Regions from separate parts of the Homo sapiens genome. Here all the other regions are linked to region 2. Evidence: fine-mapped expression QTL. A gene starts in region 2. Each other region holds a variant in brackets. All regions are shown on one strand. Distances are from middle to middle. Region 1 overlaps ALKBH1 (alkB homolog 1, histone H2A dioxygenase). Region 2 holds the start of ALKBH1 (alkB homolog 1, histone H2A dioxygenase). Region 3 has its middle 43 kb from the start of SPTLC2.

What was found. PIP is the estimated chance that this variant, and not a neighbour inherited with it, causes the effect.
Region 1: its variant is the best candidate, but not a certain one, in a credible set for the expression of ALKBH1 in whole blood (TOPMed, PIP 0.58).
Region 3: its variant is the best candidate, but not a certain one, in a credible set for the expression of ALKBH1 in thyroid (GTEx, PIP 0.74).

What each region holds. Positions count from the first base shown.
Region 1 is chr14:77,679,089-77,687,271 of GRCh38, forward strand. It overlaps ALKBH1 (alkB homolog 1, histone H2A dioxygenase), which reads right to left. Exons shown (of 6, transcript NM_006020.3): 4 at 792-882. It also overlaps the pseudogene RPL21P10. Among named protein-coding and RNA genes, the nearest start is that of ALKBH1, 25 kb to the right of the region's middle. RefSeq lists a silencer at 3,175-3,375 and enhancers at 6,090-6,591, 6,592-7,091. The variant T/C (reference allele first, on the strand shown) is at 4,191.
Region 2 is chr14:77,703,599-77,711,781 of GRCh38, forward strand. ALKBH1 (alkB homolog 1, histone H2A dioxygenase) reads right to left here and starts at 4,425. Exons shown (of 6, transcript NM_006020.3): 1 at 4,224-4,425; 2 at 771-879. The coding sequence starts at 4,406. SLIRP (SRA stem-loop interacting RNA binding protein) reads left to right here and starts at 4,505. Exons shown (of 4, transcript NM_031210.6): 1 at 4,505-4,610; 2 at 7,240-7,298. The coding sequence starts at 4,514. RefSeq lists an enhancer at 4,059-4,388.
Region 3 is chr14:77,655,617-77,663,799 of GRCh38, forward strand. No RefSeq gene overlaps it. Among named protein-coding and RNA genes, the nearest start is that of SPTLC2, 43 kb to the left of the region's middle. RefSeq lists an enhancer at 6,872-7,703. The variant C/CCT (reference allele first, on the strand shown) is at 4,070.

The DNA.
Region 1 (8,183 bases), 25 kb before region 2:
TTACAGGAGTGAGCCACCGCGTGTGATCGGTATCCATATGTTGAAAGTTCTTTTGTGAGTTGACGAATGAACAATTGAAATACATGGAGCTTCTTTTACTCCAGGCAGATATTACATAGAAAAATAAGTGCTCTTGAATGTGGCTTTTGTTGCACAATAAAAATTAAAAAAAAGAAAAAGAAAAAGAAAAATATATGCTCAACAAACTCTCACTAATAATGGAAATAAAGATGGTGAGAACTGCTCTTGAAAAGAGTTCTATATTCCTGGAACCTACTGTGAGAAAGCACTGGTGACTTCTGATATAATAAAATTCATTCCTCTTGAGATACCTGAGGAGAGATTTTTTTTTTCTTTTCTGAGACAGAGTCTTGCTCTGTCACCCAGGCTGGAGTGCAGTGGTGCGATCTTGGCTCACTGCAACCTCCACCTCCTGGGTCCAAGTAATCCTCTCACCTCAGCCTCTTGAGTAGCTGGGACTGCAGGCATGTGCCACCAGGCCCGGCAAACTTTTGTATTTTTTGTAAAGACAGGGTTGTGCCACGTTGCCCAGGCTGGCAGCAAACTCCTGACCTTAAGTGATCCGCCCACCTCAGCCTCCCAAAGTGCTGGGATTACAGATGTGAGCCACGGCACCTGGCCCAGTTGAGATTTTTTAAGGAAATAAAAGAAAGGGATCCTCCCACAAATGTATAATCTTGATATCTTAAGCGTGGTTAGGAAGAAATACAACTATGTGGGCTAAAGAAGCCTATAAACAGAAAACAAAAGAATTAAGAAAACCTGAATACCTTACTGTCCCAGTTATAATGGTAGCCTACGGTCACCCAACGCAGTTTCTCCAGTAAACTTCGGGGTCTCCGTTTAGTCGCTTCTTTATACCTGCAAAGATTGGTGACAAAAGAGGAATTATTCATGTAAAATGGCAGCAATAGCCGTTTGTATGGACTCTGGAGTTAAAATTTAGTATTACATGGTATAAGCCGTTAGCCAAGACTCAGTAGGAGAAATTAGAAGAGATAAATGAGTAGACCACAGATACATTAACAGAGAAAAACATGTTAGCACTTCTAATTTATAATCCTTTGTTCTAAATCCTCTGCTGAATGGGGTCAACTTTAAATCACAAGCCTCCAGCATCTTGGTAATGATAAAATAAGAATGACAACAATGACAAGAGAAATGTCTTTACCTGTCCATGGGAAATGGTACCAAGAGCACTATGGGCAATCAAAAATTTGACTTACAGAACATTTTCAGTTTGGTTTGCTAAAAGCAGGGTACAGTTAATCACAATGATTTCTATGTCTATAATGAGGGTGGCTTCCCAGAATTGCAGGTTGGGGAAAAAAAAAGTTTAGCAAAATATAGTGTATAGTACAATAAAAAATAACTGGTTTAACATGACTTCTTTAACTCTGTATAACATAGCTTAGATAACTGAGGCTTAGCTAACAATTAAGGCACCACTGTAACTGATTTGGTTTCTGACATACCCTTGTTCAAACCACAGGAGGTTTCTGTACAACCGAGACGTGCTCTTTCTGCAATTACATCTCATCTGATCAAATCTATGTGATTAACTACTCTTTTTTTTTTTTTTTTTTTGAGACAGAGTTTCGCTCTTGTTGCCCAGGCTGGAGTGCAATGGCGCGATCTTGGCTCACCACAGCCTCCGCCTCCCAGGTTCAAGCAATTCTCCTGCCTCAGCCTCCCAAGTAGCTGGGATTACAGGCATGCACCACTACGCCCAGCTAATTTTGTATTTTTAGTAGAGACGGAGTTTCTCCATATTGAGGCTGGTCTCGAACTCCTGACCTCAGGTGATCCGCCTGCCTCGGCCTCCCAAAATGCTGGGATTACAGGCGTGAGCCACCACAACTGGCCCACTACTCTTTTTCTAAAAAGGAAGCTTGTTTGTTTGGCTCACCTCCAAATATCTAAAAATATGAGAATGGTAGGTCTAATGATTTAATTTTTCTCTGTTATTTACATCATTGATCAATCAAAAATTTTTTTGTCCAAAACTATGGCTGTGTAAAAAAGAAAAAATCAGATTCCTTTAAGGAATCTGATTGTGACAGGAAATGGCAAATGTAATAGAAAGTCTAAGGAGAAATTAGAGGGAAACTGAACGCAGTATAAAGTCTAGTACTAAAGTAAACAGCAGACTTTGAGGGGCACGAGAATTAAGAAAAAGGAGAGCTCAAAGTCAGCTGTCGAATCAGTTGGGGCTTCTTGGCAGAGTTGGGAGTTGAGCACGGCACTGAAGAATGGGCAGCATTTAAATAGGGAGTGATGCAGTAGGCAATATGGGCACACAGCACAAGCAAAAGCAAAGGATTTATTGAGACCCACACTGTTCAGTGGCACTCATCTTGATGTTTGACGAAGAGTTTACAGAATAGATGCTATCTGTCCTCACAGAGTTTACATTCTAAGAAAGACATCATGACACATACATACATCAAGACCAGCAGATAAAAAGAAATGAACACACACTGATTTATTTAGGACAGGTGTGCAGAAGAGACATAGCAGACTTGACTGATGGTCTGCTTACAAAGATGGTCCTTGGCAAGGTTCACACAATTCTCTGGAAGTGTTAAGAGTGGCTTACTGCACCTAAACTGTGCAAACAATATGGTTTATGGTCAACACCTGCTTTGCTTCTGGGAGTCTGTGATTTTGGCATGTGTCAGGCAGAGGCTGCCTACATGACAAGCTCCTAGTAAAAACCTAGGCACTGAGTTTCTTTGGTAAACATTTCACAGATTTTGTCACAACCCATTGCCATATCCGGTGTGACTTCCTTGGGAGAGGACTTTTGGAGGCATGCACCTGGTTTTTCCTGGACTTTGCTCCAGGTGCCTTTTCCCTTTGCTGATCTTGCTTTGTATGCTTTCACTGTGATAAATCTGTAAGTGCAACCATCTGCTGAGTCCTGAGTCTTCCTGGCGAATCATCAAATTTGGGTGTGGTTTTGGGGACTCCCTGACACAACAGGAGACAGATAACTAATAATTTAGGGAAAAATATAAGGCTTGGCCACTGACAGCAACTAGCTGATTTGAACAATTACAATATGGATAACAACCACACATTATTTTTGTGCATAAAAACTGAAATATGAAAAAAATGTAATGTAGTTATTAACACAACTTGAGGTCTACCAATGTTTATTCAGCTAAAGGTACAAATAAAAGAACTCCTTGATGTTCTCCTCTAGAGAACATGTTCTATTTTAGTAGCCTGAGACAGAAAAATAAGTATGACTCATGTGGACTTTGTGGTTAATGGAAATATAAACGTAGTTCCAGAGTTACATAAGCACCTTATAGAGGTGATCCATTCTATTTCTCTTTCCAAGGTATTACTTTGTAGCCAATTCCTTATTTTAAGGTAATCTCTAGGATACAAGAAAATGCTGTTGAAGAAAAGGATGATGATGATGATCTTATGAATATTGAAGCTATGCGTTTTTGAGGAGGGGGAAAAGAGAGATGGTAGAAGTGGTAGTAAAAGATGAAAGAAGTTGGTCATCTAAGACTGGAATCTAGAACTCAAAATAGATGGCACCCTGAGTATCTAAATGGCAAAGAGTCTTCTCAAAAATTTTATTTTTTGGAGACTGTGTCTCATTTTGTCACCCAGGCTGGAGGGCAATGGCACGATCTTGGCTCACTGCAACCTCCGCCTCCCAGGTTGAAGTGATTCTCCTGCCTCAGCCACCCAAGTAGCTGTGATTACAGAATGCACCACCACGCCTGGCTAATTTTTGTATTTTTTGTAGAGATGGGGTTTCACCATGTTGGCTAGACTCATCTTGAACTCCTGACCTCAGGTGGTCCACCCGCCTCGGCCTCCCAAAGTGCTGGGATTACAGGCGTGAACCACTGCACCTGGCCTATTTTTATTGTTTAATTAAAACAAAAAAGAAAAATATAGAGATGTAGTCTCACCATGTTGTCCAGGATGATCTTGAACTCCTTACCTCAAGCAATCCTTCCGCCCTGACCTCCCAGAGTGCTAAGTGAGGCATCACACCAAGCTGTAAAGTCTTTTTTTTTTTTTTTTTTTTTTACAAACAGTCCAGGGGTATTTTAACACCTATTATGCTATGAATCCATAGAGAATAGGTTCCAGCAGCTCAGGCTCCTTCCCATTTGTTCTCACAAAGTGTGCTTCTC[T/C]GGGTGGGGCAGGCTGGCACTTCAGTTGAACTCAGGTACCTTTCTCTTTGGGTTCTTTTTCTGATCATTTTACTACACGTTTCAGGAAGCTATCTCGGCTCTTAGAGTGCTTAATGTGCTCAATGCGCACATTAATTCTCTTGGCAAGAGTCTTGCCCTTAACTTACTTGTTCACAACAATGCTAACAGCATGCTGGGGAACACTGTAGACTCTTCCAGTTTTGCCATGGCAACATTTATGGGCCATTCCTTTTTGAACAGTACCCATTCCCATTCCCTTAATGTCGACAACATCATCCTCCTTTTTTTTTGAGATGCAGTCTTGCTCTGTCACCTAGGCTGGAGTGCAGTGGTGCAATCTCGGCTCACCGCAGCCTCCACCTCCCAAGTTCCAGCGATTCTCCTGCCTCAGCCTCCCAAGTAGCTAGAATTACAGGCATGCACCACCACGCCTGGCTAATTTTTGTATTTTTAGTAGAGACAGGGTTTCCCCATGTTGCCCAAGCTGGTCTTGAACTGCTGACCTCAGGTGATCCAAACGCCTCAGCCTCCCAAAGTGCTGGGATTACAGGCATGTGCCACTGCGTCCAGCTGACAATATCATCCCTCTTACAGATGCGCATATACATGGCCAAAGGAAAAACTCCGTTTTCTAAAAGGCCTAGAAAACATCTATCAGGTACTTCTCCTCTTTCCCTTTGTCTTCGTCATTTTCGCAAATTACTGGAAGATGGCAGTTCCAGCTGAAAAGCGCAGTCTTAAGAGCTCTACTGAAAGCCTTTACAGAACCTGTCTTAATTACAGAACCCACTTAATTTTTGCCGAGTGTTTCTCAAACTTTAGTGTACATCAGAATCATCTAGAAGGCTTGTTGAAACTCACATGGCTGGGTCCAGGCCTATAAATTCTTATTCAGCAGGTCTAGGGTGGGGGCCTAAGAACTGCATTTCTAGTAAGTTCCCAAATGATACTTATGCTGCTGGTCCAGGAATTACACTTTGAAAACCACTATTCTAGCCCAAACTAAAAAACAAAACACAATACCGTCTGTTTCTTTCTAGCTCAATAACAGATTGCTTTATTCTTTTTCTTTTTTTTTTTAGACGGAGTTTTGCTTTTGTTGCCCAAGCTGGAGTGCAATGGTGCGATCTTGGCTCACTGCAACCTCCGCCTCCCAGGTTCATGTGATTCTCCTGCCTCAGCCTCCCAAGGAGCTTGGATTACAGGCATGCACCACCACGCCCGGCTAATTTTGTATTTTTAGTAGAGATGAGGTTTCACCATGTTGGCCAGGCTGGTTTCGAATTCTGGACCTCAGGTGATCCACCTGCCTCAGCCTCCTAACAGTCACAGCTTGCTGCAGGCTCAAGTAATCCTCCCCACCTCAGCCTCTTGAGTAGCTAGAACTACAGGTGTGTGCTACCATGCCTGGCTAATTTTTAATTTTTTTGTAGAGACGGGGTCTCTCTATGTTGCCCAGGTGGGTCTTGAACTTCTAGCTTCAATCAATCCTTCTGCGTTGGCCTCCCAAAGTATCGGTACTACAGACATGAGCCACCATGCCCAGCCTCATTTTATGAAGAATCCATACTATTATATCAATGTCAGACTGATCTGAAACAATAAACATAACAATAATGCTGCTTTGGAAATAATTCAAAAGGTGACAGTATTTTAGACATTTGATATGGCCGCAACAAACTGCTTTTCCACCAAAAGATTTAGTCTAATATTCAAGAACAGAGAATACATTTTATAAACACAGGTTTATGTTATTAACAATAAAAATTATCAAAATTATAGTGACAGCATGAATAGAATCATCCTGTAATATACCTTTTCTAATTTAGTTCCTTTCCTAAGAAGCCAAAATAACATCTCTCACTGGGAGCGGTGGCTCACGCCTGCAATCCCAGCACTTTGGGAGGCTGAGATGGGCGGATCTCTTAAGGCTAGGAGTTCAAGACCAGCCTGGCCAACATGGTGGAACACTGTCTCTACTAAAAAACCAAAAACTAGCCAGGCATGGTGGTGGGTGCCTGTAATTCCAGCTACTCAGGAAGCTGAGGTACAAGAATCGCTTGAACCCAGAAGGTTGCAGTGGGCCAAGATCATGCCACTGCACTCCAGCCTGGGCGACAGAGTGAGACTCCGTCTTAAAAAAAAACACAAAAAAAAACAAGGACTCTAACTGTATGATTAAAAGAAAGGCTTTGAGCTGGGCGTGGTGGCTCACGCTTGTAATCCTAGCACTTCGGGAGGCCGAGGTGGGCAGATTGCCTTAGCTCAGAAGTTGGAGAACCAGCCTGGGCAACATGGTGAAACCTCGTCTCTACTAAAAATACAAAAAATTAGCCAGGCATGGTGGTGCACGCCTGTAGTCCCAGCTACTCGGGAGGCTGAGGCAGGAGCCTGGGAGGAGAAGGTTGCAGTAGACCAAGATTGTGCCACTGCACTCCAGCCTGGGCAATAGAGTGAGACCCTGTCTCGGGGGGGAAAAAAAGGCTTTGAGTTTTTGCGTTATATTATAGAGGATGACTGGTCCAGGGATGTAAAACAAGCCAGAGTCGAGTCTTACATTGAAAAGCATTAAGTTCAGTCCTCATAACAAAAAGAAAAATTGTGATCTTTGAGTGTCTATGCCATTTTGGGGGCAATGACATATATATTTTTGTAACGTATTAGACCCATGTAAGTGCATTAGACCCTCATTTTATATTCTCTTCTGAAAACCTGATTTCAATTCTTGCCTTTGTATTTTCTGAAAGGAAAGTAGCAACAACTCTTAATATCTGCCTTCAATATGTTGAGAGCAGGACTGGCCAGCACCAAACATTTCTTGTCTTAGTACTATTTAAGGACCCTTCTGGTTAATCATGGGCCTCCTGAGTAACAAAAATTCCAAGATTTGTTCTTGAACACTGTGAATAGTAAGACCAAAACCATTTAACATGCTTCCGGATCATTTTTAAGCATAAAATACTGAGAGAATCACTGAAGGGGGTGGGTTGTTCTCTTTTTAAACCTGACTTGTCCAAAAGGAGGTCAAGAAGGATCAGTACCAATACAACTCTCACCTTGAAGAATGCAGGAAATACGTTGGCACCTAATACATCTTTATCCAATTATCCAAAAGAATGTGTTCAAGCAAACATGACCCTAATTATTGGGTCTCACTAAAAAAGAAACATGCTATGCTCCCTGCTGCCTTCTCCAGGCACTAGCAGAAGGATGATGGATGGGTGGGTTGGCCACCTTCTCCCCTGGTGAATGTGCTCATACAGCAGTTTGCTTGGTTTATGTCATGGGTAAGCGCCTTATGTAAGCGTTGGCATTTCTCTTAGCAATTGTTTTTTTCTTTTTTGAGACAGAGTCTCGTTTTGTCGCCAGGCTGGAGTGCAGTGGCGTGATCTCGGCTCACTGCAACCTCCGCCTCCTGGGTTCAAGTGATTCTCCTGCCTCAGCCTCGCAAGTAGCTGGGACTACAAATGTGTGCCGCCATGCCCAGTTAATTTTTGTATTTTTAGTAGAGATGGGGTTTCACCACATTGGCCAGGATGGTCTCGATTTCTTGACCTTGTGATCCACCCGCCTTTGCCTCCCAAAGTGCTGGGATTACAGGCGTAAGCCACTGTGCCTGGCCACCCCATTCTTTCAGTGTTTGAGTGCTTCCAGTTTTCTCTCTCCCTTCTCAACTTGACACTCCCAGTCACTCACTGCAAATGGACATCCAATGCCACTGTAACTGCTAACATCCTCTTGCTATCCTGCAAATATTCAGTCTTATCTAACCGTCTTCTGTTCTAAACCTTCACCATTCATCTCAAGTCCTTAGTTTTGTTCTTATTTCCTTCTATGTCAGTGAGAAAACAGAAGCCTGCTCAAATGATCCAGTGAACAATTTCAACTTTCCTCCCCCACACCACTAAACTTCTCTAAATTTTCACCTGATCCTCCTGGTTTCAGAAGTGGTCCTACTTCTTTCTTCCAAAG
Region 2 (8,183 bases):
TTTTTTTTTTTTTTTTGAGACAGAGTTTCCCCCTTATTGCCTAGGCTGGAGTGCAATGGCGCGATCTTGGCTCACTGAAACCTCCACCTCCTGGGTTCAAGCGATTCTCCTGTCTCAGCCTCCCAAGTAGCTGGGATTACAGGCACGCACCACCATGCCCAGCTAATTTTTGTATTTTTAGTAGAGACGGGATTTCACCATGTTGGCCAGGCTCGTCTTGACCTCCTGACCTCAGGTGATCCACCCACCTTGGCATCTCAAAGTTCTGGGATTACAGGCATGAGCCACCACGCCTGGCGAGGACTTTTGATGTCATTAATTGTAATTCTTTATTAAATATGTTCAGCCTTGATAGCAACAAGTTTTAAGTTGTTATGCCATTTGAGAATGTGACTAGAGGGACAATTATGAATTATTCATAACTATTATGACATTTATTACAATGATAATGATAAATTATTCTTCACAGCACTTCTGCCAAATCAGATGTTCAGAGTTGTGGCAGGGAGCCCAGAGGCAATGTCCTTATTTTTTCAATGGTCATGCCACTTTCAGCCACATTTGCAGGCACTGCTGACTCCTGTTCTATCCTTTCAAAACGGACGTCTTAGACAAGGTACAGTCTAGAATGGGTTTGGAAATGAAACATTTATCTGTTTATTATGTGTATCCTTTGTCTATTTACTTGCTCACACACAGTACCTTCTTTGAAGACATGAAGACATAAATGATTGAGTGATATTGCCTTCTCTGAGGTCAGTTACACTCACCAGGATAGCCTTTGAGTCCATAGGCTTGCCACTTGCTGACGGGCTGAAGACCTGCTCTATATGCATTCTGCTCACTGACAGAAGACACATTTAGCTGAGATTTGATCACCTGGCAGGAAGGAAACAGAAGTTAAAGGACTAAATCTATTTTGCAGGTCAACCCCGGGAACCTCAAACCTCCAAACACATTTCTTGTATGAGGCAAAGCTAGGATTCTTGTTTAAGATACAGAACCTTGCTCTATTGCTCAGGCGAGTGCAGAGGCATGATCATAGTTCACTGCAGCCTCAAGCTCCTGAACTCAAGTGATCCTCCTGTGTTGGCCTCCCAAAGCAATGGGATTAGAGGTATATGCCACTGTGCCTGGCCAAAGCAAGGAGTATTAACTCTGGGGTTAATCTTAGCTGTACTGCTTACTTGATCTGGGCATTTTAGATGAGTCATTTAATGTCTTAGAGCCTCAGTTTCTCATCTATATAGTAACAGTAGAGTCACCCAAAATTAAGGCAAAATGGTAATAAGAAAACTTAAGCAGGCTAATTTTGGCTTTCAAAACTACTTTTTCCTATGACATCATACCTTTCCAACTTCTTATGGGGCTGAATCATGAAAGGTGCTTGGTGTACTGAAATATCTTGAGTCACAAAGCTATTTACTTCAGTTAGGGCTAACAGTAATGCTTTTGAGACACTTGTATAGAGTTGGTATTTAAACAGAGCTATAAGGAACACCAAGCTGGACAGGGTGAGAAAATGAAAAGAGAAGGCCGGTCGCAGTGGCTCACGCCTGTAATCCCAGCACTTTGGGAGGCTGAGGCAGGCGGATCACGAGGTCAGGAGTCCGAGACCAACCTGGCCAACATGGTGAAACCCCGTCTCTACTAAAAATACAAAAATTAGTTGGGTGTAGTGGCGGGCGCCTGAAATCCCAGCTACGAGAGGCTGGGGCACCAGAATTGCTTCAACCTGGGAGGTGAAAGTTGCAGTGAGCTGAGATTGTGCCACTGTACTCCAGCCTAGGAACAGAGCAAGACTCCGTCTAAGAAAAAAAAAAAAAAAAAAAAAGAGAATGAAAAGAGAGTGCTGTAAACAGACAGAAAAAATGTTGCAGTGAGACACTGGGAATCCTGTCTGCTAAAAGTAAAAGCTAAAAAATCCTGTTTGCCCTCTTCTAGATGAAATGTCCAACTGACGCTACAACTTCTGCTTCTGTTAATTACTTAGAAATGAATTTAGTATTTCAGGGGCTGAAGTTTTCTTTGTATGTGAGTATCTAATGGATGGCTCATTACATTGGTTAAGAGACCCACTATGCAGTCATTGAAGTCAAAACATTAAAGGAAAAAACCTTTATTCTTCCCTGAATAGTAAACCTAGGGTCTGCCTTGCCTTAAAATATATGAAACAGGCCGAGCGGTGGCTCACACCTGTAATTCCAACACTTTGGGAAGCCAAGGCAGGTAGATCACCTGAGGTCAGGAGTTTGGGTCCAGACTGGCCAACATGGCGAAACCCCGTCTCTACTAAAAATACAAAAATTAGCCAGGCATGGTGGCGCGTGCCTGTAGTCCCAGCTACTTGGGAGGCTGAAGCAGAAGAATCATTTGAACCTAGGAGATGGAGGTTGCAGTGAGCCAAGATCACGCCACTGCACTTCAGCCTGGGTGACACAGTGAGACGCTGTCTCAGTAAAAAAAAGTATATATATTATATATACACACACATATATACACACACACATATATATATATATGAAACATTCTCTTTGAAAGAGAATGATCTTTTATCTTATCAACTTCTCCAAGTGTGGAGATTCCTGGACAAAATACCAAAAGTTTGCTGATGTATAACCAGTCTCTATAATAAAAGGGCTATATGAAACCCTCTGACAGTACTATCAGCTGAGTTTTCCAGGTACCTAGGCACTGGTAAAACACTTTTAAGCATTTTGTCATGATTTCTTTAATAGGCCATACTTAATACTGCACTATAATTCAACACACTCTCAGAGGTGATGTTAGTGGACCTATTCTATCATATGCTAAACTGAACGACACCACTGAGCTTTTATAAAAGGTTTTCTCTTTCCTCCCTTGCCAGACTGTTAACCACCACTTTCCCCACCAGTCTCATCAGCTGGCTTGTAATAGTAACTTCTCTTAATTACTACTTTAATCTGCTTTGAGCTGAGGAACTAAACACCCAAGCTTTCATGTACTCAACACATACTGTACTTAGTACTGTTTTAGGTCCTGTACTAGACACATAATGGCTCATTCCCTGATGGCTGACATTCTAAAAAGCATGTACATATTATGGTAAAATGTAGGTAAAAGGAGCTGAATGAGAGTCTGAAGCGCTCTGGAGAGAAAAAGTATATTATTATTGGGGTGTGGACTTTCTGTATTTTGACAACTCTAAGACCACTTTTTTTCCCTAACAAATGAAGGTGCTGAAAAGCTGAGCTCAAGTATGCAATCATTAACACTTAATACTGTAGCATCCCAATTTTATCAGAGCTGTTAGGAAGCTTGGAAAGAATGCCTCATCTAGACATCTGTGGACAACACCAAGAGCAAATTAAGGGACTGCATATCCTCAACGTTAAAGTGGATTGTAAAGAAAGAAAATATAAATTGGACTACAGTTTTGGTTCCCCGTTTTCCCTCTTGCCTGTTATGTTCCCTTAAAAAAATAATTTTTAAAAAATCTATTTACTTGAGAACAGGTTATGAGACTGGCTAATTTTTTGTATTTTTGGCGGAAACGGGGGTCTTGCCATGCCCCAGGCTGGTCTCGAACCCCTGGGTTCAAGCGATCCACCCGCCTCGGCCTCCGAAGTGCGGGATTACAGGCTTGAGCCACCGCTCCCGGACTGTGTTCCCCTTCTTAATCTCCATGGGGAAAAGCTGAGAGAGAGAACGGTGCCTGTATTCCATATATACTTGTTTGCCATTTATTTTCAACACGGAGGGATTCTCAGAATCCTTCAATGACCTCCTTCTAAAAGAGCCAGAGGAGAAGACAGGGACTAGTTTTACGCACAGTGGCTTAACAAACAGCGCCGCATCCCTGTCAGTTCTGGGATTCCTCGGGAGTGGTTTTTTTTAAGCTGCAGAAGTCTACCCTACCGTCTACAAAGACGTTCTATGGGGTTTTACAAAAACCCAAACAGAAATGTGAGGAGACAGTTACAGTAAGAAATAAACACGGATTCCCAGGCTCTTTTGACTGAGCGCCCCCGCCAGGAATGGCCGCCTAAAGAAACAGGCATCTCAACGCTTTATTGCTAAGTGTGACGGTTAGTGGGGAGTTCGACTCTGCAGCCAAAGGAGGTCAGGAATCGTTCAATAACAATCGGTCTGGAGGTGAAAAGAGGCGAAGAAGACACGTAAGTCCCTCCAAGACGCGGGGCAAAGCGATGGAGAGACGCGCGCCACTCCTCTCTCTGTACCTTTTGGGCACCAGGACCCTTGCCACGGGCTGCGTGGGCCGCCGAGAAGTCGATGACCCCTTCCAGGTCTGCGGTCCCGGGCCGGCTCTGACGGTAGAAGCGGAAAAGTTTCCGAAAGGCGTCCTCCCCGGGCTCAGTCGCCAGAGTCGCCACAGAGCCCACGGCCGCTGCCATCTTCCCCATCTCGCGGCCTATACCCTCTGATCCGGAAGCAGATTCTCTCGTGTTCCGGATCCGGAAATTTTTTCCGGGGCCGCGACCTCGGCTCGAGAAGGTGCTTTAGTCTGAAGATGGCGGCCTCAGCAGCGAGAGGTGCTGCGGCGCTGCGTAGAAGTATCAATCAGCCGGTTGCTTTTGTGAGAAGAATTCCTTGGACTGCGGCGTCGAGTGAGTGATGGAGATGTGGGAGTAGTGGAATTTTTAGGTCCAAGTGATCCTCAAAGCTTCTGCTTTTTGCAGGGTACTTAAGTCAGCGTGGTGGCTGAATTAGGAGACTGCTCCTGAGCATGCAAGTGAGCAGAAAGAAATTTTGTTTGCAGTTAACCGTTTAGGGATGTCCCTTGAGCTTTTGGGGTCACGAATGCACCGGCTCTTGCCTTTAGGAGTGATTTGGTGTAAAGATTTATTACTTGGTAACCAAGATTTACAATTTAGAAGGGATAATTTTGACTGTAGTGTGGAGGATGGATTCAAGGTGGCAAGATTGTAGGCGTGCAGAGGAGCTAAAAGGCAATTTCATTAATTTACTTAAAACGTGAGGACCTGAATTAGGGCGATGGTAGAAGGATGGTGGTCAGATGCATTAATGTTTTAAAAGCAAATTAGATGCCGTTTCGTGATGGCTTAAGTGGGAGAAGTGTACGGAATAAAGGAAAGGGAGAAATGATTTCTGGGTTTTTAGCATTGGTGAATTGTTTGTTTAGAAGTTAGGAGCAGGCCAAGAGAAGATGAGTAAAGTTTGAATGTGTTGACTTTGAGAAACTTGTGAGGTTTCCGTCAGGCAATTGGACAAAGGTTGTATATCATTGTGGCTGAGAAGTGGACTCCGAAGCTAGACCGTTGGGGTTAGAATTCCAACTTGGCCATTTAATCGTTGTTATCACTTGAATAACTGAAGTTAGTATGGGAAAAGGGCTCACAACTGGGCCTCAGTTTACTCATCGATAAAATGGAGTCAATAATACCCAACTCATAGGATTGTTGAGAGGATTGAGTTTATATGCAAACTTCTTAGACTTGTGTTAGATACAGTGTAAGTACTCAGCAAATGATAGTTATTTTCACGGTAACTAAAATTGAAACTTACGGGAGAGGCCTAGTCTACAGATAAAGGTTGGAATAATTAGTTCTGAAATCTTTCACCACCTTCAATTTTTGTCAGCTGCAGTTTTGAGATGAGGTTTTTATATTTGCTTACCAACATGTAAACATTCGTGGTCACTCTTTTTGTAGATATTCATGTTTCAGGTCAACCCCTGGAAACAAAATGGAGCAAGATTTAGTTTCTTCTAAGTTTTTAGTGGCTCAGATGTGAGTAGTAGAATGGGAAATAGGTTGGTTTGTGCCCCGTGTTTTAAACATGTGGTTGGTGAAGACCAAGCCCAGTAAAGTCTCCCGTAGTCCCTGTGAAACTTTATGGAAAGGCTGAGGAGTTTCATTAGCATCTTGCGGATGCAAGTTTCCAGACAATAAAGGGCTAGTTTAAAACCCTTAAAAAGAGTCAGCATTATGTACAGCTTCGAAACAGTTTCTCTTTGTTGTTCCATTGATTCAGCAAATATTTATTTGAGTATCTATTCTGTGGTAGGCATTGTTCTTGGTGCTTGCAGCTGTTTTTCCTTCACCATTTTAGGCAATTTAGGAAGAGGGTTACCTTCCAGAGCTGGTTTGTTTTGAAATCAGTGTCTTCTAGGACTTTAATTATCTGGTATAAAACATATGTTTAACATTATTTTGTTCTCCAGTATCATATTCTGTGAGACCTTGATCTTGCCAGTTGGTTTGACTTAACCATTAGAGCCCTTCAAAATTTAGTCTCTGTGGATTGTTGGAAGGATTAGTGGACTTTTACTTATTCATTTAGCCAATATTGAGGCCCTGCTGTTTATTGGTCACTGTAAACATAGTGGTTTATATGCTGAGGGAGCTTACAATTAGTGGTGGGGATGAAGAGACTTAGAACAAATATAGGCAATTGTTGAACCAGTGAGGTTTTGGTGAACTAGGAGAACTAAATAGATATTATAAAAAGTAAATCAGTGAAGTACAAGCACTGTAGTTCAGAAGAGAAACAGATCGTGTAGTTTTTAGTCTTTAAGATTATATACTCTAAATCTTTGAAGTCTCACAGGGCTGGTACATTGTCTTGTACTGTGATAGGAGCCCAATAAAGTAATACTCAGTGGATGTACTTGGTTTGGGTCTTGAAGGATAGTTATAGTGTTACAAGTTAGCCAGGGGGAGATAGGATTACCAACATATGGAGGGGAGAGAACAACATATGCAAAGAGGGTAACCCGCAGGACAGATAAAGATAATTCAATTAGTTGTACTAGAGAGTAACTAGGGGCTAGCAGTGGGAAATAAGGCAGGAAGGGTAGGTGAGGGCAACTCAACACATTTTACTAAATTGTGAAAGACCAGTAAGTTGGGATTTTATTTGGAAATCTTCAGTATACCGGGAAACACACTGGATTGTAATTTGTCTTTTTCTTCATTGTGATCTGCTCACAGGGATCATAGTCCACATAGCACAGTAACTGGTATGAAAACACTCGATATTTGCTGAGGATGGAGACTGCAGCCAACTCAACAACTTCTCTGTCCATCTCACCACCAAGTCTGGTACATTATGGCTTTATAGTCAGTACCATAGCTGCTTCCTAAATCTTAAGCCTTTAAGGAAATGCAAAGTAGTTCCTGTCCACAAGAAATCTGGTGACCCTGTCTTTCTACAGTCTAAGATAGAGAATCCAAAATATAGTAACTACTTTTAATGTTTTCTTCTGCCACACAGGTCAGCTGAAAGAACACTTTGCACAGTTCGGCCATGTCAGAAGGTGCATTTTACCTTTTGTAAGTATTAAGGAAAAGTAGGTGGGAGGTGGGGATGGCTAATGGGTACAAAAAAAATAGAATGAATAAGACCTATTTGATAGTACAACAGGGTGACTATGGTCAATAATAATTGTACATTTTAAAATAACTCAGAGTGTAATTGGATTATTTGTAACTCAAAGGATAAATGCCTGAGGGGATGGATACCCCATAAGTCAAAGGATAAATGCTTGAGGGGATAGATACCCCATGCTCCATGATGTGCTTAATTTACATTGCATGCCTATATCAAAACATCTCATGTACTCCATAATAAATATACATATTTATATATATAAATATATAAATATATACACCTAATAATATATAAATATATATAAATATATACCCAAATAAATATATACACCTACTATACACTCACAAAAATTGTTGAAAAAAAAGCTTAAAGTGTTTTAAAAAATTCTTATCTTGCAACAGGGTCTCGCTCTGTCCCCCTGCAGGGGTGCAGTGGCCTGATCTCACTGCAGCCTCTGCCTCCCAGGCTTAAGTGATCTTCCTGCCTTGGCCTCCTGAGTAGCTGGGACTATAGACATGTGCCACCATGCCCAGCTAACTTTTTTGGTATTTTTTAGTGGAGACAGGGTTTCGCCATACTGTCCAGACTGGAAAATTTTTTTAATTTTCATTTTCTTTAAGAGACAGGGTCTTGTTCTGTCACCCCAGGTGGAGTGCAGTGATGCAGTCATGGCTCACTGCAACCTCTGCCTCCCAGGCTTAGGTGATCCTCCCACCTCAGCCTCCTGAGTAGCTGGGACTACAGGCATGCACCACCACACCTGGGTAATTTTTGTATTTTTTGTAGAGATGGGGTTTCGCCATGTTGCTTATGCTGGTCTCGTCGAA
Region 3 (8,183 bases), 48 kb before region 2:
CCCTTGGGCTGATAGGGAGGGCTAGAGCAAAGGAGAGCGTCTCTTAAGGATGTGTTCTCTCACTCAGACCTCGAGCAAAAGAATCTTGTAGTATTTCTGCCTTCACAGGCTACATCCCGCACAAAGCCGAGCAGTTAGCGGGTTTTCAGTAAGAGCTGTTTGAAGGAATGGCTTTTTTTTTTTGGAGACAGAGTTTTGCTGTTGTTTCCCAGGCTGGAGTGCAATGGTGCGATCTTAGCTCACCGCAACCTCCGCCTCCCAGGATCAAGTGATTCTCCTGTCTCAGCCTCCCGAGTAGCTGGGATTACAGGCATGCATCACCATGCCCGGCTAATTTTGTATTTTTAGTAGAGATGGGGTTTCTCCATGTTGGTTAGGCTGGTCTCGAACTCCTGACCTCAGGTGATCTGCTTGCCTCGGCCTCTCAAAGTGCTGGGATTACAGGCATGAGCCACCGCGCCCAGCAGGAATGGCTTCTCTTTCTCCAACTCTGGACCAGCTTCTTGTATGAGAGCCCAGTTACTTTTCCTTTATCGAGGTCTCTGTGGTTTTAAGAAAGATCTGCAAGTTCTTTGCTGCTCTCCTGAAGATGGGGAGCCTAATTCTTCTCCTGGGGTAGACTCAGAGACTGGCTTCTAAAAACATAAAGCAAAAGTGATGGTGTGCAACTGCAGAAACTAGGTCACAAAAGGCACTGGAACTTCCTGTTCTTTCTTACTTGGATCATTGCTCAGGGAAGACCCTTGCCATGTCATGAGGACATGCAGCAGCTCTGTGGAGATGCCCACGTGTGTGGAACTGAGGCCTTCTGCCCTCAGCCAGGTTGGAAGCCGATGCCCCAGCCGCATCAAGCTTCAGACAACTGCGGCCTGGACCAACGTCCTGCCTGTAACCTCCTGAGCCTCCCTGAGCCTCACCAACCACTCAGGCAAGCTGCTCCCAGAGGCACTGTGTGAGAACATAAAGATTCATCGTTTTAAGTAAATGTGGCCATATTTCCAGCAATAAACAACTGATACAGGCTTCAAGAGGACACTCTCTTATTTTTTCCTGGGTTTTGCAGCCAAGAAATAAAACAAAAAGTAAATATGGAAGGTGAAATAGCACTTTCATTAGTGATAAGAGGCCAAATTGCAGGATGTGACTTAAGCCAATTGAGCCTGACAATCCCAAACCCCAGAATTTAGGTGGATACCCACACAGACCCAAGGAACACTGGGTGGAGCAGAGACCTCCCCTTGCAGAGTAGAAGCATGAAGAAGGGGAGAAAACTTCTCAACAGGTGGAATCATGCCCAACAGAGACAAAAGTATGGATCTGAGCCAAAGATACCCAGGTATTCTCAAAATTAACAGTGGGAACAGGCTGGGCATGGTGGCTTACACCTGTAATCCTAGCACTTTGGGAGGGTGATGTGGGCAGATCACTTGAGCCCAGGAGTACGAGACCAACCTGGGCAACATGGTGAAACCCCATCACTACAATAAATAGAAAAATGAGCTGGGTGTGGTGGTGCATGCCTGTGGTCCCAGCTACTCGGGAGGCTGAGGTGGGAGGATTGCTTGAGCCCAGGAGGCGGAGGCTGCAGTGAGCCATGATCATGCCACTGCACTGCAGCCTGGACAACAAAGCAAGAACCTGTCTCAAACAAACAAACAAACAAACAACCTTCCTCCCCTCCCCACCAAAAAACCAGTGGGAACAGTCACTGCTCCTCCCCCACACCCACCAGGAGAGGAGGGAGCAGTGGGGCAGAGAGAGTTCCGGAAGTTCCACTCATTAAGCTTCCTTTGCAGGAAGGAAACATCAGAAATGAGGAAGACGGTTCCCCCGTCATATCCTTTCCTTACATCAGTGGTCCTGTCCTCTGCCCATGACATCTTTCTTCCTTGTGGGGTCAGTGACCAGATGACTTCTGCATCCCTGGTGTTTTTCTGATCGTCTTATTCTTCTGCCTGTCCCTACTGTGTCCTGGGAACTCTCTGTTAACTTGAGGCTTTCCACGGTGCTGCATATAGACAAGGCCCTGACTCAGGACACAGAGAGAATCATGATGCTTCCAACGAACTTGCTATTTTGAGAATAAGGTTTCATTTTCTTTTTTCCTGGCCGTCTTTGTCCAAGCCTTTTTTTTTTTTTTTTTTTTTTTTGAGATGGAGTTTCACTCTTGTTGCCCAGGCTGGAGTGCAATGGTGCGATCTCGGCTCACCACAACCTCCGCCTCCCAGGTTCAAGCGATTCTCCTGCCTCAGCCTCCCCAGTAGCTGGGATTATAGGCATGTGCCACCATGCCTGGCTAATTTTGTATTTTTAGTAGAGACAGGGTTTCTCCATGTTGGTCAGGCTGGTCTCGAACTGCCGACCTCGGGTGATCCGCCCGCCTTGGCCTCCCAAAGTGGTGGGATTACAGGCGTGAGCCACCGCGCCCGGCCTTGTCCAAGCCTTTGAGGCTATTGTTTTGTTAAATCATCCATGCGGATGGAACAAACCAACTTTGCAAGAATGTTGTATGAGTGTGAAATCTTCACTTAAAAAAACAAAACAAAACAAAACAAATACTTTCTAAGGGAGGATCCTTTTGTTTTATGGGTGGGAATGTGGTTCTGGAATTTACTTAATGTCCAGCAAGAAGAGGCAGTGAGCCAGCAGAAAATGAAAAACCTGCCATCCATTTTGATAGCTTGGTGATAATATATACATCTTCTGCATATGTATAGCTATTTCAAAGGCTGATTACATTTATTTCCTGTAAAATGGGAATCCAGTGAAATAGCTATACTTTCTTCTGCTGCTCTTTAAAATTCATGCTTCTCACCCACTGAATCACTAGTCAATGTCGTTGCATCTCCACCCTTGGATATTCCAATCCTCTCTTCTTCACAGTTGATTTGAAAAACAAAAAGCTTGCTATGAGTTAGTATTCAAGGCTGGTAGCCTTTAGGTCATCTTTGATATTTCTATCTAAATTATGTGTCTACAAAATCCTCATCATTCTTGCTTTTCTCTCTTAGATTCACTCTTCCACTTATTTTTTTCTTCAAATTTACACAAGGAAAACCTGAACGCAAAGTACAGAATTGCATAGAGTAAAAAGTGAGAGGTGCCCATGACAGTTGTTTGTTTCATGGCTACAGATTCTCCCTATCCCAATCCATAGGCCCTTTGGCAACGTAGCTGTGCCATGCATGTCACCAAGAGTTTCAGTCTGTTTCCTCATCCCTTGAAACCGGGCTAACTTCTGACTTGCCTTGAACAGCAGAGCATGACAGACATGATATTGTTGAGTTCTAGAGCCTCGGCCTTCAGGACTCCTGCTGCTTCTGCTTTGGTGGTCTTGGACTGCTGTCCTGGGACACCACAGAAGCCACTCTAGCCTCCTGGGTGATGAGAGGCCATGTGGGCACCTGGGGAAGCCCAGCTGGCAGCCAGCACTAGGTGAATGCAGCTGCATCAGTGAGTTCAGGGGAACCTAGTCGAGGAGCTACCAAGCCAACCCACAGAATCAGGAAAAATAACAAGTTATTGTTCTAAGACTCTAAGTTTGTCATGCAGCAAAGGACAACTGAAACTGTCACCATCACCTCTCTGTTGATCCCACTCTTCTTAGACCTTTTTCTTTTTTTAAATTTAATTAATTTTTTGGGGGGATAGGGTCTTTCTCTGTTGCCCAGGCTGGAGAGCAGTGGCACGATCATAGTTCACTGCAGACTCGACCTCCCAGGCTCAAGCAATCCTCCCACCTCAGCCTCCCAAGTAGCTGGGACTACAGGTGTATGCCACCATGCCTGGCTAATTTGTTATTATTATTATAATATTTTGTAGAGACAGGGTCTTGCTATGTTGCCCAGGCTGGTCTCAAACTCCTGGGCTCAAGCGATCCTCCCACCTGGGCCTCCCAAAGTGTTGGGATTACAGGTGTGAGCCACTGTGTCCAGCCTTCTCAGACCTTTTTCTTCACATTATCAATATCCATGTGTATATACTAAAGTTAAAAAAATCTTAGGAGGCTGAGGCAGGCGGATTGCCTGAGCTCAGGAGTTCACGACCAGCCTGGGCAACATGGTGAAAC[C/CCT]GTCTCTAGTAAAATACAAAAAATTAGCTGGGCGTGGCGGCGTGTGCCTGTAGTCCCAGCTACTTGGGAGGCTGAGGCAGGAGAATTGCTTGAACCCGGGAGTGGAGGTTGCAGTGAGCCGAGACTGCACCTCTGCACTCCAGCCTGGGCAACACAGCAAGACTCCATCTCAGGAAAAAAAAAAAATCGGTGGGATCACACTTTACATACTGACATATTTTCACATGATACACATGGATTGCATAATTCTTTTAAACCCCATAGAGTCCATCATTATACAGATGAGCCACAGTGTATTTAGCTAGTTCCTGTTAACGGACATTTAGGCAATTTCTATTTTTTCACTACTATAAACAGTGTTGCAATAAATGATCTTGTGCTTTCAAGTTTCTCTTCTCTGATCCATCCTGTTTACCACTGCCTGGGTTAAGGGAGGGGCAGAAACAGAATATCAGTAGGCACTTGGGGGCTTCTGGATAATTACTGCAGGGATTTGGTCCTTGTACCTGACCCCTAGAGGCTAACCTCTGCTCTCAAGAAAACAGAGATTTGTGCACCGCTGGCCACCACTGCTCCTCTCCCTCATTACCATCCTCTTGGGCATGATTAAAGGATTGGAGATGACACACAAAGATTTGTAAAGGAAGACGGAGCTACAGTTGCATATTAGGGATGCTGAAGAAGCACAGGGACCCCAGCAGCCTTCGTGGTGTGGGCCTATTTAAGAGGGTCTGCACTCACAGAGCACTCAAAATTCCCTGGAGTGGCCAGGCGTGGTGGCTCACACCTGTAATCCCAGCACTTTGGAAGGCTGAGGTGGGTGGATTGCCTGAGGTCAGGAGTTCAAGACTAGCCTGGCCAACATGGTGAAACTCCGTTTCTACTAAAAAATACAAAAAAATTAGCCAGGCGTGGTTGCAGGTGCCTGTAATCCCAGCTACTTGGGAGGCTGAGGCAGGAGAATCGCTTGAACCCAGGAGGCGGAGGTTGTGGTGAGCCGAGATCGCACCATTGCACTCCAGCCTGGGCAACAAGAGTGAAACTCCGTCTCAAAAACAAAACGAAACAAAACAAAATTCCCTGGAGTGTTCTGTGCTGTCTGGAGGTGTTTTTGGAATCTACCTAATTGGCCGAGGTGTTGTAGGAAAGGATATGGGGGAGTGTGGGTGTCTATGATGAGAGGAGGGTGCAGGGAATGGGCTTTGCATCTTGCAGAGGGATTTCTGCCAGAGGTGAGTGTGGGCACGTCACGGGGGCTGCTGACGGGGTGCTGTATGTGCCTGAGTGTGGATGTGACCAAACTTGGGGATATGTTGCTGTTAAATGAAGCGAGGCATTACCATGGCAACATAGCTCTCTGCTCCCAGCCAGATGCCAAGCCCTTAAATTATATTTTTCCGGCTGAAAGCACCTCAATTGCCTCTGGTCTCCAAAGCAATGGGACCGTGGGAGCACCAGATGCCTCACCGTTGTCTCCAACCTTTCGACAAAGCCCAAGAGGCGATAAGCAGGGGAGATGGCACAGGGGGCACGGGTGAATTTTGTTTGTTGGGGGGGGGTGCCTGGGAGTAGTGTCTGGTGAAGGGGGCTGGAGAGAGCCACCGACACACTCTACTTTTATCATCTCCTGGTCCAGTCACCTAGCACTTCATTCCAGAAGTAAAATGTGTATAATAACACCATTAGAGTTGCCAGTAATTTCTTCCACTAGATGAAGGGGTGGGTTGCCCCTCCACACCTGTGGGTGTTTCTCGTTAGGTGGAACGAAAGACTTGGAAAAGAAAGAGACACAGAGACGAAGTATAGAGAAAGAAAAAAGGGGGCCCAGGGGACCGGCGTTCAGCATAGGGAGGATCCCGCCAGCCTCTGAGTTCCCTTAGTATTTATTGATCATTCTTGGGTGTTTCTCGGAGAGGGGGAGGTGACAGGGTCATAGGATAATAGTGGAGAGAAGGTCAGCAGATAAACACGTGAACAAGGTCTCTGCATCATAGACAAGGTAAAGAATTAAGTGCTGTGCTTTAGGTATGCATACACATAAACATCTCAATGCCTTACAGAGCAGTATTGTTGCCCGCATGTCCCACCTCCAGCCCTAAGGCGGTTTTTCCTCTATCTCAGTAGATGGAACATACAATCGGGTTTTATACCGAGACATTCCATTGCCCAGGGACGAGCAGGAGACAGATGCCTTCCTCTTGTCTCAACTGCAAAGTGGCATTCCTTCCTCTTATACTAATCCTCCTCAGCACAGACCCTTTACGGGTGTCGGGCTGGGGGACGGTCAGGTCTTTCCCTTCCCACGAGGCCATATTTCAGACTATCACATGGGGAGAAACCTTGGACAATACCTGGCTTTCCTAGGCAGAGGTCCCTGCGGCCTTCCGCAGTGTTTGTGTCCCTGGGTACTTGAGATTAGGGATTGGTGATGACTCTTAAGGAGCATGCTGCCTTCAAGCATCTGTTTAACAAAGCACATCTTGCACAGCCCTTAATCCATTTAACCCTGAGTTGACACAGCACATGTTTCAGAGAGCACGGGGTTGGGGGTAAGGTCATAGATTAACAGAGTCTCAAGGCAGAAGAATTTGTCTTAGTACAGAACAAAATGGAGTCTCCTACGTCTACTTCTTTCTACACAGACACAGTAACAATCTGATCTCTCTTTCTTTTCCCCACACTAATTACTTCCTTTCCATCCATCCATTGTTCTTTGTTTGGTTTTGAAGAGTTAAGTCCTCTGTATCATCAGGGCCACAGGTAACTGATCTGGGGTAGACAACTAATCCAAAAAATGCCAAGCTGATTTTCTTTGAGCAATCGGGATTTAGGGCATCTATATGCAAGCAACCTGGAAAACTGGGGACTGAAGGTGCCATTTAGGGGCATCACTGTGCAAGTAAAATTAACAAAGAGGGTTGCAATAAGAAGGAAGCAGACAGGCAGAAAAAAACCAAGAGGGAGGGAGAGTGGGGGAGAGTGGAATATGGCAGCTGCTGTGAGTCCTGATGTTTTTACCAATTCTAGTTCCCAGTGAGGCTTGGCTGCACTTCCTACCCTTGGTTGTTTTTTGTAATTTAGTGGGTTTGTGTCTTGTAGTGGAATGATCCCTGATTAAGGCATTAGAGTATTTGGGTTAGGTTTGGCTTGTGATGCTAGCAGTGCCTTTTGGAGCCACATCCCCACTCAGGATAAACAGTGAATTCCTAGAAAAAAGACTGCTTGCATATGTGTAAATGCTTAAAAAGATGCTGTCCCCCTTCTCCAGCCAACTATTTGCAAAGGACTTCTGTGATATACAACAACACATTAACAGTATGATAAAATGTTCTTCATTCAACAATATTTAATTGAGCAGCTACTATGTACCAAGAACAATTCTAGGTGTCAGGGAAATAGCCCAGAACAAGACAGAAAAAAAAAAGAAAAAAGCCTGCTTTTCTTTGGAGGACACAAATAATAAAGAGTAAAAAAAGATATAATAGCAGATAGTGCTAAGGGCTATGAACAAAATAAATGATTTTTATCATGTGAGTCATACAGAATCATAAACTATTAAGGCTAAAAAGGTCTTCAAGATTTTCCAGATGCTCTTATTCCCACAAGACCAATGAAACAATAGAGGAGATAATAAACGGCCTTAAGCCAAATAGGAGGGTAGTGAAGCTAAGTCTAGCTCCTTCTTCGTCCGCTTTTATGTCACTTCCTACAGGAAGCCTGTCATTGCCATTTCTAGGTTAAATGCCCCTCCCACTACACCTTGTACTTGGCCCATGGGAGCATACTTTTATGGCAACCCTACTTACGTAGGTGTTTTTCCCACTCATGGAAGGACCCGAGGGCAGAAACAATGCCTGTTACATTCACCTAACACAGTGACTCACTTCACAGATGCTCAGTAGTTGCTGGATGAATAACAAGGGCTTGACACCTAACTGACAGCAGCAATACTGATGTTTATTTCACTCCCTTAGGCAATTCTTACACTACGTGACCTTCCAAAGGCAAAAAGAGTTGGTTAATAACACAGACATAGCATCACTGTCTTCAAAGACAGAGAAAAATCTTCCATAGCCAGAAACACGGTTTGTTCACGCTTTTCCTGTTGTTGAGC